Linked DNA regions of Homo sapiens: region 1 is linked to region 2. Evidence: fine-mapped expression QTL. A gene starts in region 2. The other region holds a variant in brackets. All regions are shown on one strand. Distances are between the middles of the regions.

Evidence for each region. PIP is the estimated chance that this variant, and not a neighbour inherited with it, causes the effect.
Region 1: its variant is fine-mapped to the expression of COL8A1 in skeletal muscle (GTEx, PIP above 0.99). The same link has a PIP of 0.9 or more in subcutaneous fat and thyroid.

The regions. Positions count from the first base shown.
Region 1 is chr3:99,538,201-99,546,592 of GRCh38, forward strand. All of the region lies in intron 1 of LOC105374007 (a long non-coding RNA gene), which reads right to left. It overlaps LOC105374005 (a long non-coding RNA gene), which reads right to left. Exons shown (of 5, transcript XR_007095985.1): 1 at 7,318-8,392. Among named protein-coding and RNA genes, the nearest start is that of COL8A1, 96 kb to the right of the region's middle. The variant G/T (reference allele first, on the strand shown) is at 5,196.
Region 2 is chr3:99,634,435-99,642,826 of GRCh38, forward strand. It overlaps COL8A1 (collagen type VIII alpha 1 chain), which reads left to right and starts at 4,160. Exons shown (of 4, transcript NM_020351.4): 1 at 4,160-4,230. LOC124909401 (a long non-coding RNA gene) reads right to left here and starts at 4,246. Exons shown (of 2, transcript XR_007095981.1): 1 at 4,153-4,246; 2 at 2,934-3,500.

The DNA.
Region 1 (8,392 bases), 96 kb before region 2:
CGGTAAGCCACAATAAATCAGCGGGGTAGATAACAGTATCATCTTTATCTCACAGGTGAGGGAAATGGGGTATGTCACATGTCTAAGGTCCCAGAACTACAAAATAGCAGAGCTGGGACTTGAACCCATGTTGCCTAGTTCCAGAACTCAGATTCTTAGCTATCAGATCATATTGCCTCTCATGCTTACCAAAGCATAAAAAGTCAAACAGAAAAATGAAAATCCAGTTTGGAGGCAGAAATTTCTCTTAAAGTACTGGTAATTGCTCTTACAGGAATCTAGAAATATCCAATATCTCTTTCTGGGGTCCATGGTGGGTGCACAGGACTCCACAAAAGGTACAAAAGGCATCTTTCAGTTCCTTCTGGTTCATAGACTCAGTATTGCTGTGCCACATCAGGCAGCAACAGGGCTTGCTGCACTTCCTACACTTGTGTGAGAAAGAAGTTAATGTGCCTTTGGAGCAATCATTCCCTGTTGATAATAAGCTATGTCAGTTAGGAATTGTGTCTCTTGGGCTCACTGCTGTACCTCCAGTGTATAATAAAGTGCCTGACTACAGCAGACATTCAGTCACTATTTAGTAAAGAGTTAATTCTGTCATGTGTATGTATCACATGCATGCCATATATGTTTACTGTGACTCTATCGTGAATGTATGCTTTTATTTTATTTTATTATGGAGACTGTTTTCCATAATTGTGAGTTGATAGAAAACAAACATCATACTTGACGAAATACCTAAATGAGTGCAGACTAGACTGTAAACATTGCATTTTTAAAGGAAGAAGGAATCTCTGCTTTAATCTAACTAAAATTAATCTGACAAAACTGTACATTTAATGGAAAATGGTTGAATAAAATATAGATGATATCTCTTTAAAGCATTTTTAATAAATTGGGGGCTCAAAATAAATTAGAGGTTCTCATTATAATTTAGAGCTGCCAACTATTTATTAGAAAGATTGACTTTGGTGGATATAATTTTTATGATACTATCTTTACTGCCCACATATTTTTGAAAAATATAGTCTATTAAATAGGATAATGATTCCTATTGAAGACTGTACCAAAATAGTAAAAAAAAAAAAAAAAAAATCAGTTGAATTTCATCCAGAACCAAAAGAGATTAAATTTACCTCATCCCTGGATATGGTGTATGGTATTTGGCTCAAATTGCATTTTTGCAGTAGGGTGGAGTTTGAGATCAAAAATACCAGAAAATTATGCATTTGTTGAAAGCCAACTTTCTGGCAACTAGGGTAAGCATTGTTTTGTCCTATTTCTGTGGAATTTTGGTCATATCCCAGCTATCAAAGAATATTATTTATTCCTACAGAACTATAGCCTCAAGAAAGACAGATATCGTATTTGCAATAGTCCTTAATTTAAATGTCAATTGTGTTTCTCCATTCACTGAAATAAAAGTACATATGGATAAACCAAGAGAAAACATTATACATTTAAACCCTTCACTTTAAAAATGAAAAACAAACAAAAGAAAGAGGGTGACAATTGATTGCCAGTTATACTGGCAAATCATTAACATTTTAGAGCTAAAAAAAAACCTTGAAAATAATTGTGGTTAATACTGAGTGTCAACTTGATTGGATTGAAGGACGCAAAGTATAGATTCTGGGTGTCTCTGTGAGGGTGCTGCCAAAGGAGATTAGCATTTGAGTCAGTGGACTGGGAAAGTTAGATGGACCCTCGATCTGGGTGGGCACCATCTAGTCACCCACCATTGTGGCCAGAATAAAAAGCAGGCAGGAAAAACATGAAAAGACTAGATTGGCATAGCCTCCCAGCCTACATCTTTCTCCCATGCTGGATGCTTCCTGCCCTTGAACATTGGATTCCAAGTTCTTCCGTTTTGTTACTTGGACTGGCTCTCCTTGCTCCTCACCTTGCAGACAGCCTATTGTGAGATCATGTGTTCGTGTAACTTAATAAACTCCCATCCTATTAGTTCTGTCCCTCTAGAGAACCCTGACTAATACAATAATCTATTCCTATCTTCTGGTTTCACAAACAAATAAATGGGGATAGTAAAAAGTACAATGATTTATCCATGAAATCACAACTACTGAAGGACAAAGCTGAGACTAGGACCCAGGTGTTCCATTTGTAGTCCAGATGTGTTTCATTGTTCCATGCAGTCCAGCTGCAATGCTGCCTTGTGCCACTCTTAGGAGATCTTGCTCAGTAGCATGGCATACTCAGCCTCTGGTGATAGTTCTGTGACTGGCTTTAACTTGAAGATACAATGCAGCTCCCTTGGAACCTGGCACCAAATGCCCTTGAGTCTGTGTATTGTGGTTATCAACACCATTGCCTGGACTTTGTTGGGCATGTGGGAGTTTAGTTTATTTTCAATTGTGTCATTCACTCATGACAGCCTGCATCAAACACATCATGGCCATGTATATTTTGTGCTATTATATAATAGAGATCTCTAAGAAACTTATCTAAGAGTTATTTTTTTCTGAGTAGTAAAATTCACTATATTTGCCATTGTCTGAAAAGAATTCTCTCTCAATCCCTTGCCTTCATCCTCTTTCAAAAAAAATCACATCTAATTTTTAATGGAGCATGAAAATTCCATGATAGAGCAGCACATATGAGAGTCAGAAAGACAAAACTCTGGTGTAACAAGTAACCTGTAAAGACTTGAGATGACTTCTTTGGTGCACCTAATCCTGTAATCCCATCAGTCACCAAACCAGAAAGGTCAATCCTGATGGTGTCAGTCCACCAACACAAACTTTGTTTCTGATGATATTTCTGTCCATTCAGCTGAAGTTTTATCACACAGGCTACCAGCAGATGCTTGGTTGTTCTCAGTGATGACCTGATACTGTCATGTCCATGTTCATACGTATCATCCCATTTACATTCTCATTTAGAAAACAAATTCCTTCTAAAATAAAGAATTATGTCCCATTTACTTTATCTCTTTCATTCTGCAAAACCTGGAGATGAATAGACATTATGCCATTCGCCACAGCCTATAGGATTATAATGAGGAAAGCCACCTGAGTTAGAAGTAAATCCAAACACTGTTTCATAATTGTTCATTTTCCTAGAATTGATAGAAGCACCATTTAGAGATGCAAGAAGCAGGGCAGTTGAAGTAATCATCAGCCTAATTGCCTCAACCCTTGGCTTTGTTTGAGCCCCAGGGGTCCACTTTTGGGAACTGACAGACTTAGATTGTGATGCCAGTCTGGTTTCTTGCATGCTTTCACTCAACAAGCCCCTTCATGACCACATGCATTTGATATCCACCAAGAGGACATAACATCTGCTTCCTCTCAAAAGTTCCATGTAATTTGTAGAGATCAATGGGAAATAGTCTCTGAAGCACAGAGCTATCAAGATTATTACTGTAAATTCCTAATTCTACCTATTTCATTTTAATAGAAATTCCAGTTTCATAAAATAAAAATTATTGGTAAGAGAGACTGGGGTGACATTTATAAGTCCTTTATGTAACATTTTATAGCTTTACACATAATTCAGTAATAAGAGGAAAAAGAAGAAACATTCCATATTTTCTCTCAAAATTATTTAGTCACATATATTCTTAATAGAATTCTTAAGAGAAATTATCAATTTTCATGAAATGACCTTAGTTATACCTTTGGTATAAGGATATTTTAAATTATATTAACAGTTTCATATTATAGTTATTGATAATAATGACAAATAATTCTCCAAAATATTCTAGCGGAAAACTGGAACTTTATTCCCTTTTTCATATACTCAAAGCATCATTCACTTCAGTTATTGCTATCATAACTTACAACTCAATAACGATTGTTGTGGGCAGCAAGCCACCCAGGCGCCGAGGCAAGAGACCAAGGACACGAGCTGTTCCAGTATAATAAAATATAAAACAAGAATAGTTATACCAGATATAGATCTTAGATATGATTATATATGAATATCATTAATCATTAGTTTCTAAACTATTTATAAGAGGTAACTAATACATAATAAAGTGAGCAGATGAGGTGCAATAATATCTCATCCATATCTATATCTATAGTGTTTATCCTGTATCTCAGGAATAGCAGTTAACAGCACAACTCAGAATAGAAACCCCAGTGTGAACCCCAGCCTAAGTTTCAGGTTGAAGCAGAATTAACTGACTAGAGTGGATGAGTGGAGTTGGTCTTTATTATTAGTGATCTGAATTTTTTTTTATTAAATACAATCACAACCATTCATGTACGGTGCCAAATCTTGTGCTAAGCCCTTTACATAGAATTTCCTCATTAATGATTATGTACTTGAAGCTCTAAGAAGTAGATCACACATAAGTAGCAAAGCCAAGAGTTGAACCCAGGCTCTCTGAGTCCAAGGTCAAGATCTTAATCTCATATGTAAATAGGTAGGTAAAAATTTAAAAAACTCAGGAGTTCAAGGCTGCAACGTGTTATGATCTTGCCACTACACTCCAGCCTAGGCAACAGAGTGAAACACTGTCTCTAAAAAAGCAAAAACAAAACCACACCATATTCTATCCCTTAATACATTCTAATAGCCAGAAAACTAAATGGTCAATTTCAAATAGGCAATTTGAAAAGAAGTACAAATGACTCTGAAAGTCAGAAAAGCTGTCGAATCTCTACTAATCAGGAAAATATGAATTGAAACAGCAATGTATTATCTGTTTTATCATCCATTATATTTGGATGTAAGTGTTAAAAACATTAACAATATCTGTTTTGGGTGAAGATGCTGATCTTGCTATTTCCTGTTATGTTCTGGAGATTTTGGAGAGGTGCCTGTCTCCCCTTGTCCTGGCAGCCTGTGACACTGTTATCACATTTCCCTCCCTCTGCTAACACAGAAAACCCCATGGCTAGCCCCACTATGTGTGTTCTAAGTTGAAGGAAGATATCACATCTGAGTTCCCTTTCTACTGAATCAGAAGCCTCTAGCAACCTCTACTCCTTCATTGTGACAAAGTAGCAGTGGGGTTTCAAGGTCTGACTTACCTGGCATTTATTCCAGTTCCAAGACTACCACATGCACCAGCACCTGTGCTGCAACCCTGCCCCTGAGGTCACTTCTTTTTCACATTCCTTTCTATCGATTTTGCAAGGCCCATTCCTTGCTGCTTAATCTCACTTCCTCTGACTTAACCCATTTCCTGTCTAGTACCTGTTTGCTCCTCCCTTCCTCTG[G/T]CACTCAATGTCCTTGTCTGCCTTATTTATAGTGTCTGCAAGATCTTCCTTTTCCCCTCCAAGCTTTCCTGGCTACCCTTGTTCCGAAGACCTGAACACCCTAGTTTCGCAACTTTGGGAATTCAACAACCAGTAAATTTTTTGTAAAATGTAGAGAATTGTCAGAAAACTGCCAAGTGTCAATTTTGCCAAGTTGGCCCATCAAAAATAAGAAATACCATCTATCATCACCCTCATTTTGTGAACAACAAGCATTTTAAGTTTAAAAATGGGGAAAGGTCATAATCTCAGACAATAAAAGTGTTTCTCAAAGAATACCAATTAAACAACTTTGGGTAGAGGAGAACCCTGATGTGGGGGAGGGATCTATGACTAGAAGAAGCTGATGTATTAGAAAACAGTCTGTCTGTCCAGCACAGGGATCCTCTTGGAAGTCAAAGCAAAACCACTTTTTGCAGCCCATCCCCACATCCTCTCCCACCTCAAGGTCCCTTGCTTGAGTTCCTCATCTGCTTATGCTAAAGGATCACATTAGCTGCTCATCTCTCTCAGAAAACACCATGCATCAACAGCTGCTGGCAAGCCACGGTGGAAGTGCCAGCAAAAAGATGCTCACTCATGCCTGGAGTATGCTGCTCTCCATCAGAGACACTACATAGACCCCTCATTGTGTTCTACAGCTTAGGGTACTTTAAGCCCCTCCCAAAGAGTAGAGTTCTTGACAGGCAGAGAGGCTGTGGAGGTGTGGAGGAAAAGCCTCAGCAGAAGTATTAGGGTGAAACTAGACAGTGGTGTCCCTATAGTGCTCATTTCATCAAGGATATGTAACTGTCCATAGAAAGGTTTTTAGGGCAATCACTGGCACGTACTTCAGGGTAAGATTTTAAATCCAAAGTGTTCTAATTATGGAGAATATGTTTAGGTGAACATAGTTCTTGAAATGCAGCTCTTTTCTTATAATCAAGTAAATTTTATTATTCATCCTGATTACTCATCAAAAATTTGTTCCAAAATCACAAGCTTAAGTGAATAAATGGCTTTTTTTGTTGTTATTAAATGCCTAGGTTCTAAGGTGTCAACTACTAGGTTCCAAGGTTTCAGTCCTCTCTTGTTATCAGTGGGGGATTGGTTTCAGTAGCCCCCACAGATACCAAAATTCGAGGATGCTCAAGTCCCTGATATAAAATGAGATAGTATTCGCATATAGCCTATGTACATTCTCTCATAATCTTTAAGTCACCTCTAGAGTAGTTATAATATCTAATACACATAAATGCTATGTAAGTAGCTATTATACTGTACTACTTAGGGGATAATGACAAGAAAAAAAGTCTGTACTATTCAGTACAGATGCAATTATTTTTCCGAATATTTTCAATCTGCATTTGGTTGAATCCATGGGTGTGGAACCGCAGAAGTGCTAGCAGATTTTGACCTGCATGTGCTAGCAGTAGAAATATCCTCACCCTCTGACTCAGGGCATCAAATCTTATACTTCTTATCAGGAAGCAGTGAAAGGAAATGGAAGGAACAGAGATAGGCCCACGGCCAAAAGGGCCTGAGTTATGAAAAGAAATTGGTCAACTTGGTCTACATGAGGATATCTGGGAAGGACAAACTGCATAGATGTCCCGCCTCCCCACGTGCCAAAGAAATATTAATGGTGTATTTGCTCCACTAACATTTGGTAGCAGAGGCAGTGTCTTGCCCCAGGCTTATTGCTAAATAATACAGAAGCTAGAAGGAAATGTAAGAAGAAAGTTGGGAATGTGAAACATGTGGTGAGGTCAGGACACACACACCCACATGCCCACACAACACATGACTATGTGGTTTTTTTCTATCACTGTGAACACAACTGCCATTTCTGTCACCATCATTAATTAAGAATGAAAATTCTTAAAACTTGCTGCACCATTCATCTGTAGAGCTAAGTAGGATTATTCCGGGCTTTCAGCCCAAGTTTTCTAAAAGCCTAGCTGATTAAAAGGCATTAACATTTGTGTTTTGCCAACACTGATTATACTGATTGCTGGCAAGTGTTTATGTGATAACCAAGACCTAACAAGAGAGATGCAGAAAAGCACAGTGAGCATAACACTCGTATATAAGAGATACCCACCAGTTGCTGAAGTAATCGCTTCTTCCTTGGCAAAGGAAGAAAGTTAACTCATCGTGGTCTTCAAGGCACCTTCTAGGGCTAACATTTTATGACTCTGTTGAACAGAAAACTTTTCAGAAGGCATCTGCCGAATAACATGAATAAAAATGCTTCAAAGGCTAGTTACAAATTTTAAGTACTCCATACTCTATTTTTGCCTCTTTTCCTTCTGTTTCTTACCCTGTATTCATTTTTCATTAATATTGCTAAACAAAGAGGAGAGAAAGAGAAGTTTTATTAAGTCAAATTTGATGGGATAGAAAGTTGAAGTTCTGAGATTATGCACAGAATTTTCCCACGTTTAGATTCTCTGAAATATGTCTTTCTTCAGTGGCTTTGAACAGGAAGAGTTAGCTGTGATTTGAACCTTAGCAAGCTTAAAGATTGGTTGTAAAAGCACCTCTAAAGGAGAATGCTGGCAGAAAATGCAATGAACTTCTGCTAGAGACCTCAACACAGCTGAGAATCTGGAAATTTGTGCTATTTGTGATAAGAATTTAAGCAACCAAAAGTCTTTTGTTTTTTGAAAATGAAACAAAACAAAAAGCAGCGACTTGCAAGTATACAGGAAGCTTATCTCCTTCAGTTCAGGAGTATTTGTTTGCCAACTAAGGGTTACTTTTCACAAATGTAAAGTTAAGTCAACAACTTTCTTGGCATTTATGACACTATATATAAAAGAGCCTGTGAAATATGAAATGAACTTTTCAGGTTTTGAAATTGATACACCAAGATTAGGAAAATAAACCGTTTGATGAGTGTTTTGCTGGCTCATTTAAACTACATTCCCAGTCATAACTCTTGATTTCCCAAGCAAGGAAACAGAAAGAGAAAGAGAACACAGTATGTTCTGAACAGAACTGAGTGCTCCTTGCATGACTTAGGAGTTAGATCCACGTGAAACATTTATGCTTACCATTACTTACCACTCCCATTGTTACTATTATTAATGTTGTACATTAGAATTAAGTAGTTTCCAGAGTGCTTTCATATATTTTTTTCTCATTTTTACATGACTTCCCAATACTGTGATGTA
Region 2 (8,392 bases):
AGAGCTTGAAATCTGGCATGGGCAGCACAAACAAATAGTTAAAAATTAACTATTTGAGAACATAGATGTGAATGTGCAGTTTTTAAAGCCAGATCACACTGTTTTCCAATCCAGAAATCCTTGAAAACTCAAGGATCTCATGGATCAGGTATATTATTTAGGGATAATGTAAAGCTACAGCAGGTGAGAAAGACACTGGGCTCCTCGGACACACAGAGAAGACATCACTCTTTATGTGAATCCCATATGTCACCCTGGCCACACCGTGAGAGGGTCCTGCCTTCCTACCCCCTTCCTACAACCATACAGGACACTCCAGGGAAAACTGGGCTAGAACCACTACTGTTTCTGCCACCTTGCTCAGGCCTCCAAGTCTGCAGGATGCAGACACTCTGTTTTCTCTATTTCTAAGTATGCTATCAGTCTGAGATGCACAGGCAAGCATTTATCTGCAAAGCCACAATAAAGACCCTATATTCAAAGAAAAATGAAATCTTGAAAATATGCCACTTTCACCATGCCATTCTATTGCTCAAAAGTCTTCATTGATTCTGCATTGCCTACAGAATATAGTTTATACTTCAGACTACTGAGGTGACCTCATCCCTCCTCATCCCTCCTCTCCATTTCTCAGCCTCATTGTTCTACCACATGGACCTTTCTATACAGTCATGCTGGCCAATTCACCACCTTCTGAATATTCCTGTGATTTCCCTGGTTGCACACATATCCTCCCTTGCCTGGAATGTACTACTGTCCATCACTCGTCTATTCAAATGCTACTTTCCATGGCTCAGCTCAAATGCCACCTCCTCCCTGAAGTCTCTTTACTAAAATTCAACTATCAGGATTTCATGCTTTTCTTCCTCTGTGAGAAAAGATGTCATATTTTCCTCTGCTTTGAATACCTCACATTGTCTGATATCCATTCTTAATAAATATTTGTTAACTGATTAATTCTAAATAAACTCCAAAAAAGGGTTACATTTGCAAAGCTCTCAAAAGTAAGGTAATGATCTGTAGCTGTTATAGCCACACAATGGAAACTTCAGAGCATCTAGTATGTTGTCATTGGATTCCTTTCCTTCCACAGAAGACCAAACTAGGTCATTTCAAACCTCAGTCACCTTCAGAGAGATTCTAGGAAGGGCACACTAAGAGTCAGCAAAGAGACGACATTCCTGGATTCCTGACTTGTTGTCCAGATCTGCTACTGAATCAGATTCAGGTAAGTGTGAATGGGAGAAATGAACTAATTATTAGTGCCATCCAAAAAAATGAAAGCAGTGCTTTTGTTATGTTGGCTGGTTTGAAAGGAAGAAAGAATTAAAAATAAGAAGAGAAATTCAGCCTACAGCCATCAATTGTCTTTTCTTCAAATGTGCTTTTCTTGCCTTTCTGGTATTTTTTTTTTTTCATACGTATGTGATGGAACTGGAATGTTTGAGAAGAATTAACTTAGGATAGAAAAGATGATTTGTTGTAATCTGATAAGGGTATTTACTAACATACTTTATCACCCAGCTTCTCCTCTAAAAGTCCCATTTTGTTTCCCCAGAACACATTTCTTTGCTAAATTAAAAAGTTCCAAAAGTGGTATTGTGCTTGTAAAATCACATCTGATTTCAGCGTTATGTCCAAGAATAGATAATGCAGTCCTATTTCTAGGTCTAGTAACAAGTGTTACTCGTTTGACAGACTTCACTCAGTAGATTTGGCCACATCCTCAAAAGACATACTATTTGGGAAGAGGAAAACTGAGTTATGGAGGGTAAGAAGAGAGTAAAACCAAACAGCAAACGGGCAGAAAGTTGATGTGAAAGTTTTAGCTTTCTAAGCATTCATTAAACTAACAAATGCTGACCATTCTCTATTGTCAGTCCTCAATATTGCTGTTTATTCAATTAGCGAGACTATACATATTTATTGAGCACTTATTTTTTACTAGCTAGTAAGCCACTAGTTATAACTTTGTGCAGCCAAAAAATTATTGAATATAATTTGAATAGGGAACATAGAGATAAAAAATTATAAAAAGGCGAATAATCAATAATGCAAAACATCGTGAGTAAATTTGAAAACTCTGGTGTCAAATTTGTGTTTACGATAAAAATTTTAAATTTTTTATTTCATATATGATTGTTCTTGCCTCATATCCCGGGCACATGGGAGTTTATTTCGTTGACTCCCAGACGTAACCAATTGAGAATAAGCTTAGTTACAAAGGAAGTAATTGAGGCTTTGAGCTCTTGAAGCTAACAGATGGAAATACGTATGTAAAAACCTAAGTGCTGTGTAAACTCGGCACATATGGACGTAGGTATTATTATTATCCAAATGGCACTACTGGGTATTTTCTTAATAGATTCTTTTAAAATGCTTTTTTATAGTTGTGGGCCTTTTTTAGACGAATAGTTCTTAAGAAGAGGAGGGGATTTTGTCCCTCAGCGACATTTGGCTAAATCTAGAGACATTTTTTATTTTCACAGCTGGGTGGCGAGTGCGGAGTGGGTACTGCTACTGGCATCTGGTGGGTAGAGGCCACGGACACTGCTTAACATTCTACAGTGCACAGGAGAGGTCCCTACAACAGAGAAATATTCTCCCGAAAGTTTCAGTAGTGCTAAGTTTGAGTAATTCTGCTCTTCACCATCAAGTTTCCTTCTCTTGGAGCCTGCTACCAGCCAATGACATCAGGATCTAACCTGAGACGAACCTAGGTGTTCTATACGGCAGCCTGGTGTACTGAAGAGTGCCTAAGGTTTGCAAGCTCGCTAGCTGTGGCTCCCCCTCTCGCTAGCTTGAGCTAGTTATTTAAACCCTTAGAGATGCCTTTCTTTAAATTAAAAAAAAAATAAATAAATCTGCACAATATGAATCATACCTACCTCATAAGGTTGCGGTGAACACTGAATGAAGTACATATATACATATTCAGTACAAGTTCGTTCCTTTATTATTTCCAGCCTACCCATCCCTCCCCCCTCCCATTCCCGCCTTTTCCCCCTCCCGGTACTGTATCTCCCACCCCAAGTCTCAGGTTCTCTTTTAAAATGCTTTAATTCCTTTGGTGGCAAAAATCAGGCTTGGGCTAGGAAGTGAGTCACCACTCAGCAGCGAAAGGAGCTTGTTTTTCTTTCTCTGAATGCATTTCTTAGTAATTTCAGACTGATCCTTTAGCCACTTGTTGGTTGAATCCTCTCTTAATGTTTAAGACACACTGAGAAAGAACTGTGGCACCAAGACGTTTTCCGATTGTTAGGAATGAGAGTGTTTTAAATACCGAAAATAACCAGAGGGCAGAGAGCTCTGAAATCCTACGTTACATAAGCAGATGCTGGAAGACCCAGGCTGGTTCTGAGGTTCCTGTCTCCACAAGCAAGTCCACGCGAATCCTCCCCGTTGCTGGATTTACTTTAATGCTGCCGAAGTCTCAAAAGGGGCCTCTGGATGCTCAGAGGACAGGCAGCGCAGGAACTTCCTTGTCAAATAAGCCTTGCCTGGAGGGAGAGGGATGGGGCGATTTTCACCCGCGGGCGGTGGGACGGGGCTGAGGGCTGGGGGCTGCCTGGCTCCAGGCCATGTCAGTGCCTCCAGCTCCAGGTCCGGGTCCACCCTGAACTTTGGCTCTGCTGCCCGGACGCCCAGCTTCACCTCCCTTGCCTCGCTTAGAAACCCTTCAGTTCTCCCGGACCGCTATGTAGCTTTTCAAATTCCCAAATTCACAGAAAACACCTTCAAAAGTCACAATCACCCACAACTCCCTCTGCCAAAAAATGTCATGCAAAAACGGAAAATACTCCGATTCCCCTTTCCTCCCAGACACTCTCTCTCTCTCTGTCTCTGCTATTCATTTTCTCCCCCACCTTTCCCCATCTGTGGTCAAGATCCCTTTCACTATTTCTAGTTCCCTCTCTTTTTTCCCTTCTCCCTCTCTCTCCCTTTTCCACTCCTTCCTCCGTTGTGACCGCGCTCCCCCTCCCCCCGCCCCGTCGTCTCTCCTCCGCCTTGCGGGCTCCAGTCTCTGCCCGCCCCTCCCCAGAGAAGAGTGTCCAGCTCCTCCAGAGGCTGCCCGCCCGCCGCTCCTTCCCTGCCCACCTACTATGAGGAGCAGCTCCTCCCACCTGCCCATAAAAGCCAAGTGCATGTTACCAGCAGCGGATCACAGCCCTTCCCCGATCCTCTCCGTGGGAGCCAGCGAGCCTCTCTCCCTGATCTTACGTGCTCAAGGTAAGACAGCACTTCTGCAGGCAGCTCACCTACCAGGGGTTGCTATGGGGGAATAAGTCACCCTCTGGCCAACGCGTTTGCTGTTTGGTTAGAGCTGATTCTTACGGATGCGCGATCCGCTGCTCCTTTAACTAGCAACTGGTTTGAAAACAAACTTCTGTTTGAATGGTAAAATAAAAGCTCCTTCAGGGAAGAAACAGCAGCATAAATATTGCGAAACCTTTCTCTTTTTAAATCACTTTTTCTCCTGTTGCTGACTGTTGCTTAGGTTAAAATGTATCTGTTTGGGGTGTTGTACTGACGTTTTTCACTGTACATATTTCACACATCAGTGGGGGCAAGGAAAACGTTGTCCCATTGTCAAAAATGTACTTTAAAAGAACACAGTTAACTTCCTAAAAATAGCACAGTCAAAAGGTCTGCTAACAATTTTGTGATGTTTTCCAAACCCCCAAGACAGCTTCTGTGAGTCCTTTAAAAAAATATCTTTCCAGGTTTTAGCGCTTGGAAAAAAATGATGTGAACGGGTGCCCTTTGCACGGGGACAGTAAGTAATCAGGTGGCTGGTAGATAGGAAGGAACAAATCCAAATTCACAAGCCAGGGTAGAATGTGCTCTCTCACCAGGCTATCTTTTCACGACATCCTAAAATGAGAATTACGATGGAACTAAGAAAGTGTATAAAAGAACTTCATGAATTTCTGTACACACACCTAAACATAAAGTGTTTCAATATGTTTCACAGTAAGAGAATAATACAGGCCAGATTATACAATACTTCTGTGCACACCAGATGGTTGTAAAGAAAGATCAGCGAGAAAGGCTTTGGAAGTTTTAATCCTTCTTTCCACCTTTTTTCCCCCGCATTTAGTAAATCACAACCTACCTGACTGGCATCCAATTATCAGAGATATTCAGTGTTTAAGCTACCCTCTTTAAAAGAAAATGATCTCTTCTTATTCCTAAGGTAGAATAAATGTGCACCTGTGAAAGGAAAAACATACTCCACAGCCACTTCTGTAAAACCAGACACTTGGTCCATGAAGTTTGCCATCAAATTCTGTGGGTTGTGTGGGATGAAACTCTCTCAAGTGGGAGAAAAACCCTCTTCAAATGTTTCCTCTGGGGAATTGCTCAAGACCACTTAGAGAAGGCAAACCAAAAGTACCAGTCAGGAAACCAAACCACTCTTTTAGCCCTTAAGGTTCTTAAAGTAAGAAGAGAAATGTTTCACTTTTTTATTTTTTTGTTTGTTTATATTATCTCATGTGGAAAGAAAAAACTCACCGAAGCTGTATGAAATTCTCCCCTATTAAAGAAACAAGACTCATTAGAAATTTAACTTAGGTCTTCCAAACCATTTCTCCTTAGCTTTTGCATATCAAAAGTAATAAAAATATTTAAAAGTTCTGCTTGAGATGGAGAGGATTCAATGCTGTTACTCAAATGCAAGAGTTATATATAAAGCTTCTGTCACGTTAAATTTTTCTTCATTGGAAAAAAATATTGCAAGAAGTGCAGTTTCCTTTAAGCAAATTATATAAAATTACTATTGGCCAAGATAGTATGTGACCTGAGCATATTAACATACCTTTTATCTCATGCCACAATGCAGACTGCTTGCTTTATATCTGATGCACATAGGTAATCAACCATGACAAGAGTACAGGTATGGGACAAGGCCAGACCAAGTATGTGGCACATTCAAGTTAATTCTTCTTTTATGGTAGTGCCTGACTCACACCCATTATCACAAGGATGAAAATACGCTGCTTCATTCACCAGATCCCCTTGAGGGAAGTTATCTTTTCTTGGGGTGGAGGGGGAAATGCTCCCAGTTTAAATGAGCTTCCAGTTATTCCTAAGTTTGGGGATAAAAGTATTCTCCAAGGGTTTACTTCTGCTTTCTCTGGCAATTAATCCACCGGACCAGCTATGGACCGTTAAACAGTAACTGCCTTCCCTATGTCCCATCAAGTTCAAGCCCCTAAATAACTGAGTGAGATCATCTTAGATTGCTCATGATCTAAGTTTCCCAGGAGCAAAGCTATCCTTTCTCCATAGGGTACATACCAAGCAAGATGACACTGCTCTTCTTAAGCTTTTAGAAAAATCAGTGTCGAAGTTTCATGTAGTCGCCCCCAAATCTCCCCTTCTGCATGGGATGTGGATACTTCACGTGAGTCTCCTCTTTTTGCCATTATATAGCTGCCTCTTGATCAAGTCCATGACTATACCCAACCAATGCCATTGAGGCAGACTTGGGAGGACTTCTTAATGTTTCTCAGAAAAGATAAGATGAGAAGCTGCCGCTTTCACTAGAGACACAAGAAGGGAGCTCTACTGATTTTGAGGGCTTGCTGATCCTACAGAAATGTGCATTTTAGATGTTCTACTACTGTCAAAATTATAAAATGATATCCTTTTCATGATCAGAAAACATATGCCACTTTATTCCTATTTATGAAATAAAAATCAAGGAGAAGAGGATTGGGGTGAAAAGGGACTTGAAAGAGAAGCTGGAGGAATCACAGAAGTGCCCTAGGAGAAAAGCAAGATTAGGAGCTCTGTTACGAAACGCAACTTCTCCCAACCCTCATTTATGTGAACATGAGGGGATGGGGAAGAGCAAAAATCCATGTCTGCTCTTGTCTTTTTATTTGTTTGTTGTTTTTTAATCAATGAGAGTATAAGATCCATCTCTACTATGCCCTTCTTCTTAGCCCTCCTTCTTTAGCAGAAAAGAACAGCTTGGTTCTAATGATGAAAATGATTTCAGGTTTGCCCCATATTTAAAAACCCACAGTAATTTGCTAGTCATAATTCTAAAAGCTATACTATGAGTTAAAATAAAAAACTCCTTAAAACATGTTTTTAACTAACAGATGGGTCACGTCAACAAAACCAACCCTAAGTCTCCTGAAAAGTGTAATGTTGAGTGCTTATTTGTAAGTTAAAAGTTAGAAACAGCAATTTACTCCTTATCCATGGTTACTCACTTTGGTATGGAAACTTGCAGACAGATTGAGACACACCGTATTTCCTAAAACCTCTGGTCCTCCAAGTAACCCTCTGGGAGCTAGGTGTTTCTGCCTTGACCTCCTTCTCTTCAACCAGACCCCTATAAACATACATGTACATAAGTTAAAGAAGGTACAGATCTTGAAACTTGAGTGTATTCTTGTGAAAGGTGCACTGGTCTAACTATTGAGTGAAAAGAAAACCAAAAGGAGAGGAGAGGAGAATTAAGGGGAGAATGAATGCCCTTTGGAATTTAGAGAATCTTTCTTTTTAGCATTGTGTGAAAAGGATATCTCAATCCCTAAAGCATCTGGGAATACACATTTATTTAAAGAACCTGTTCAAAAGTTGTCACAAAATGCTAAGAATATAATGAAGAAGATCTTCCAGTGACCTGGCAGATATTAACAGCAGGTTACACCCCACACTACTAAATTATAGCTCTATTAAACTTCCCCTTTCTAGAGAGATAAGGAGTGAGAAGTATGAGCATTAACCACATTTCAACACAAACAGAGAAAAGCTGCTAATGAGAGATCCCTCTATCACTTTAGTAACTCCATTTGTTGTTTGAGGGAGAAGGTTCTTCATAGTTTTTCCTCAAGCAGATTTGCAGGAATGGGGTTAAAGGGAGTCACACAAGGTTAGAATGTCTACAAGCCTGAAGTCGTGTGTACTCAAATTCATGAAGCCATTGAAATTGCATCAGATCAAACTGAAGTGAATAAAACAAAAAGTGTTCACCAAAACTGATCACAGAGTAATCAATAAAAATAAAAATAATGAATTCTAACTTCTCAATGTAGGATAAGAGCAAAAGCAACAACTTTAGCTGACTATGTAAAATATGAACACACACCTGACAATTCACCTTCGGTGTCCTCTATTTATTTGGGGCTCACTTCCATCGTCCCTCCTGGACAACAAAAACTGACCCTTCTCTCCTTCAGCAAACCTTTCAGGATGTGCAGATGCAGTCATAGTCCCTCTGTGACATTTCCTTTGTTCTTTCCCTGGAAAAAATCTCTTTTTAATTCTCATAGAACAAGTTTCTAAAGAACCACTCATACTTGTGGCTTCTCTCATTACCAAAAATTTCCTCATACTTCTCTTAAATAGGATATAAATTTTCACCCTATCA